Linked DNA regions of Homo sapiens: region 1 is linked to region 2. Evidence: fine-mapped expression QTL. A gene starts in region 2. The other region holds a variant in brackets. All regions are shown on one strand. Distances are between the middles of the regions.

Region 1 (2,500 bases), 620 kb before region 2:
AGTGCTTCTTTTATAATCTCTGTTCTACCATTAGAGATTTAGATCTCTTTAATTTCTCTCTGCAGTGTTTTATAGTTTTTAATATACAGGACTTGAACATCTTTTGTCAGATTTATTCCTAAGTATGTTTTATTTTTGATACTAGTATACATGGCATTTATCTTTAAATTTCAGGTTATATTTACTAGTTGCTGGCATATAGATATGTAATTTATATTTGTTTACTGATCTTGTATCCTGCAACTTTGTGAAACTAACTTATTAATTTTAGTAGCTTTTTCTGTAGATTTCATTACATTTTCTACCTAGACCATGGTGTCATAGTGTTGTTCAAGGCTACATTAGTCAGAAAAGTCTGACTAATTTTCTTCCTATGTATTCTATCAATTACTAGGGCAGGATACTGAAATCTCTGACTATAATTAAGGGACTGTCTATTTCTCCTTGAAGTTGTATTCACTTTTGCTTCGTGTATTTTGAAGCTCTGCTGTTAGGCACATAAGCATTTAGATTTTTACGTCATATTGATTGGTCCGTTAGACAATGTGATATAAACTTCTTTATCCCTGGCTGCGTTAAGATCTACCTTAATATTAATATAGCCAATTCAGCTTTCTTTTGATTAATGTTAGCATGTAATATATATTTCTATCATTTTATTTTAATCTATTTGGTTTTTCTTATACTTACAGTATATTTCTTATAAATAGCATATAATTGGGTCTTGATCTTTTAATGCAGTCTGCTCATTTCTGTCTTTTAACTGGGATTTTATAGTGTTTACATATATTATTTATTATTTATCTGATTGGATAAATAAAAACAGGATGGAAAATAGACAATCCTAACCGTATCAATAATTACATTCAATGTAATTCAATGCAGTTAGCATTGAATGCAATTATTTAATGTAATTGAATAATTATTGCCCTTTCCTCTTGTCCTGTCTTCTTTTGCATTGAGTTATTTTTTTGTTTTCATTTAATCTCATTTGTTGTCTTATTAGCTATTACTCTTTGCTTTGTTATTTTAGTGGTTGCTTTAGGAATTATAGTAGACATCTTTAGCTTACTGTCAAGTAATATTTTACCACTTCATGTTCAGTGTAAGAACCTTGCAATTCTTCATTACTCCTTCCCCAGCCACCTTTTTCCTATTGTTGTCAAACATTTTACTTGTATATGTTATCAACTCCAAAAATATAATTTTTTTCTTAACTAATCAATTATATTTTAAACATATTCAAATTATAAAATATGTTTAATAGACTTACCATTTTTCAGTTCTCTTTATTGCTTTGGGTATATTTATATTTCCGTCT[G/A]TTAGCACTTTCCTTCTGCCTCAAGGGCTTCCTTTAACATTTTCCATAGTGCGGATCTGCTGGTTATGAACTTTTCCAGCTGTTGCATATCTGAAAATGTCTGTATTTTACCTTAGTTTTTGACAAATATTTTTGTCATATATATATTTTGGAGTTATTTATTTTCTTTCCATGTTTTGGAGATGTTGTTCCACTGTCTTCTTACTTGCATTGTTTCCAACAGTAAATCTGTTGTAATCCTAATCTCTGTTTCGTCTTTCTCTGGCTGCTTTTAAATGTTTCTCTTTTACCACTGGTTTTGAGCAATTTGATTATACTTTGTCCTTTTGTAGCTTTCTTCATGTTTACTGTACCTATCATAACTGAGTCTCTTACATCTGTAGATTTATGTTTTTTATCAAATGTTACAGTTTTGTTCCTTCATTATTTATTTAAATATATTTTCTACCCTCCCCTTTCTCCTGTAGGGACTCCAATTTTATGTACATTAGATCACACATGAAGTCATTCTGCAGTTTACTTATGCTCTTTTTTCTCTCTGTATTTCATTTTGTGTAGTTTCTGTTGTTATGTCTTCAAGCTCACTAATGTTTTCTTTTACAATCTCTATTCTACCATTAATTGCATTCAATGTATATTTGCATTTCATATAGTTTTCATCTCTAGATGAAAACTCAGTTTGGGTCTTTGGTATATCTTCTATGTCTCTACTTAACTTTTTGGACATACATATTACAAATAGTAACTGTTTAATATCTTTGTCCAATAAGTCTGACACCTGTGGCCTTTCTGGGTTGTCTTATTTTTTTCTCACTATGGGTTGCACTTTCTTGCTTCTTTGCACGTATGGTGATCTGTCTATCTGGTAATCTTTGGTTGGACCCAGACAGAGTTTTGCTTTTTTGTGTTTCTACAGATCTCCCTGTGCTTTGTTCTGGGATGTAGTTAAGTTACTTGGAAATAGTGTGATTGTTTTGGGTTTTGTCTCCACAGTTTGTCAGGTGAGAAAGAGCATCATTTAGTCTATGGCTAATTATTGCCTAGTTCTGAGGCAAGATTCTTTTGAGTGCTCTATCCAATGCCCTGTTAATTATAAGGTTTTACAGTCTGGCTGGTGAGCACAATTTCTGTTCCTGGCCTTGTAAGCACCTGGTATTTTTTTCTGTAATCCTTTCAGAT
Region 2 (2,962 bases):
GTTTATTTTATCTTATTTATTTTTTTGAGACGGAGTCTCGCTCTGTCGCCCAGGCTGGAGTGCAGTGGCACGATCTGGGTTCACTGCAAGCTCCGCCTCCCGGGTTCACGCCATTCTCCTGCCTCGGCCTCCCCAGTAGCTGGGACTACAGGCGCCCGCCCGGACGCCCGGCTAATTTTTTGTATTTTTAGTAGAGACGGGGTTTCACCGTGTTAGCCAGGATGGTCTCGATCTCCTGACCTCGTGATCCTCCCGCCTCGGCCTCCGAAAGTGCTGAGATTACAGGCGTGAGCCACCACGCCCGGCAAGGAATACGTTTTAATAAAGTAAAAGTTACTGTTAATAATTAGGCACGTAACTCCTGGACCCTGAAACAATTACGCTGTCTTCTGTAAAACAGGAAAATATCAGGCATCACAGGAGAAGTATGATCCCATTTCTATTTTTTTAAATGTCTGTGAACGTGTGTAATCACAGAAAAACTCTGGAAGGTTGTCAGAAAAACGTTAACATACCCCTGGGGGTATGAAAAAAGGCGTTTTTCCTCCCCCTTCTCCCCCCCAGCGACCGATAGTTCTTTTGTCTTTTTACAATGAGCATGCATGCAACAGGAATGTTAAAAATCGATTTCTTTTTCTAAACCGACAATGTATACAATTATTAAAGGGGGAAAAACACTTCTGAAATGCAAAACATGGAATCACTCTTGCAGAGATACCAGAGATCTCTGAAAGCTGGAAGCGTGTCTCTTCTCTGAACTCCTAGTGCCTAACAAGCAGTAGGCAGCCCTCATTACTGCCTCTTGGCAAAAAGGGCAGAACAAACAGCTTTTGGTAGGTCTCGATCAAAATGGTAACAAATCACAGTTTTAATAAAATGGCAAATATTCTAACTGCCAACTCTTGGATGTTTGCATTATAAAATGAAGCAATACAAAGATAAAGGCAATTTTCTGTCTTCATTAAAAAAAAAAAAAAGCAACCTTAATACCCAGTGGCAACCCTAAGTTATGAATAAAGCAGCAGCACAGAAAATGCTGCTTGGGTTCCCTTTCCCAAGCTGTCCAGCCTCGGCGGCTCCGTTCTTGAGCTCCAAGAGTCTGGGCACAAAAAGCCGCGTGGCCCTGGATCCTGCAAATTGGGAAACGGGGGGATCCTGCAGGCCAATGGCCTTACGGGAGCCAATGTGACGGGATCAGGGGCAGACCCATTTAGGTTGCCGTAACCGGCCAATTCAGTACGCAATAGGGAAAATCAATTAGGATCTGCAGAGGGTTCCCGGATACACCTTGCGAAGAATGCCGCACTCTCCGCCACTCATTCCCCACTCACCGGCACCCGCTAAACCTTCAGCCTGAAATTTTCCTCCGAAGGGAAGCAGAGCAGAGGAAGAACTACCAAGTGCTACACTCAAAGCCTGCCGTCGCAGTGAGCGCGACCTCCAAACTGAGGCATTTTTGTTCCGGCGAAATCCCTCCCACTCAGGAAAGTCCCTAGAAAGAGAGCGCAGGCGCCTGGGTATCACATGACCACTTCCCGGAAGCGCAGCAGACCCGCTCAACTTCATCCTGGGTTGAGGCGGAGGAGAACTTCCAGAATTATGGCGAAGTCCGGGCTGAGGCAGGACCCGCAGAGCACAGCTGCAGCCACTGTGCTAAAGCGGGCAGTAGAACTAGATTCGGAGTCGCGGTATCCGCAGGCTCTGGTGTGTTACCAAGAGGGGATTGATCTGCTCCTGCAGGTTCTGAAAGGTGAGCAATGAGCCAAGGCGGGGAGGACCTGAGGAAAAGGAGCTGGTTCCTGCTGTGTCTGGGGTGAAGTGAAAGAGTTAAAAATGATTTTTCCACACCACGAAGAAGCAGTTAAATACAGAAGGTGGGATATTCTATAGGACAACTGGGCCGCTTTCTTTTAGATCTTTAATAGATTGATGTTACCTAGAAAAGGTGGGGAGGCTACTAGTCTAGATTTTAAAAGACTTAAGAGATATAAGATATAACGCAATGTAATATATAAGCTTTGATAGGACCTGGGTTTGTACGAACTTTAAAAGACATTTTTGGATCTATTAGAAAAGTTTGAATATAGATTGGGGGGCATTAAAATTATTTTCTTAGGCAATATGATTTTTTTTCCAAAACTTTCCTTAATTTTTAGAGATGCAGACCAAAGTGTTTTAGAAAGAGATGCTATGATGTCTTTAGTTAATTTTCCTTAAGCAAAAATTTCTTAAAAATCGAAGCTCTATTTGAGCAAAAATGCTAATTTTAAAAATTTCGGTGATGGGTAATAAGGGTGTTTATTATACGATTATTTTTAATTTTCTGTTTAAACATTTGCATTTAAAGCAAGCCAAAGTAAAATTATGTAGCGGTAGAAGAAGAAAAGTTTTTCTTAAACGGATGAGGTTCGGTGTGAGAAATGCGCAGGGTTGTGGAGGAGACAAGTGAGACTTTTCGTATTATTCAATGTTGAGAAATACCCAAATATTCCTTAACACCCAGCACAACCCTGGCTCACAGTAGACACTCAATATTTATGTATTAAATTGATAAGATCAGCTCCTGCTCCCCAACCCCCGACACTCCCGGTCTGGACTAAGCTCCCTCTGTTCTTTCTAGTTTAAGCTTCTTATAATTAAAGTGTTACAGAAGCTTTGGGGCAGCAGAGGGGAGCCCTTTATGGTTTGGTGCTTTGGTCAGAACTACAAACTCTACCGGCCGGGCGCGGTGGCTCACTCCTGTAATCCCAGCACTTTTTTGGGAGGCCGAGGCAGGTGGATCATGAGGTCAAGAGATCGAGACCATCCTGGCCAACATGGTGAAACCCCGTCTCTACTGAAAATACAAAAATTAGCCGGGCATGGTGGCACGCACCTGTAGTCCCAGCCACTTGGGAGGCTGAGGCAGGAGAATTGCTTGAATCCGGGAGGCGGAGGTTGCAGTGAGCCGAGATCGCGCCAC

What was found. PIP is the estimated chance that this variant, and not a neighbour inherited with it, causes the effect.
Region 1: its variant is the best candidate, but not a certain one, in a credible set for the expression of MITD1 in whole blood (TOPMed, PIP 0.66).

The regions. Positions count from the first base shown.
Region 1 is chr2:99,796,763-99,799,262 of GRCh38, reverse strand. All of the region lies in intron 8 of AFF3 (ALF transcription elongation factor 3), which reads left to right. Among named protein-coding and RNA genes, the nearest start is that of REV1, 310 kb to the right of the region's middle. The variant G/A (reference allele first, on the strand shown) is at 1,322.
Region 2 is chr2:99,179,619-99,182,580 of GRCh38, reverse strand. MITD1 (microtubule interacting and trafficking domain containing 1) reads left to right here and starts at 1,523. Exons shown (of 7, transcript NM_138798.3): 1 at 1,523-1,750. The coding sequence starts at 1,600. It overlaps MRPL30 (mitochondrial ribosomal protein L30), which reads right to left and starts at 1,397. Exons shown (of 6, transcript NM_145212.4): 1 at 1,332-1,397. RefSeq lists a silencer at 1,016-1,188 and enhancers at 1,406-1,455, 1,476-1,705, 1,716-1,855.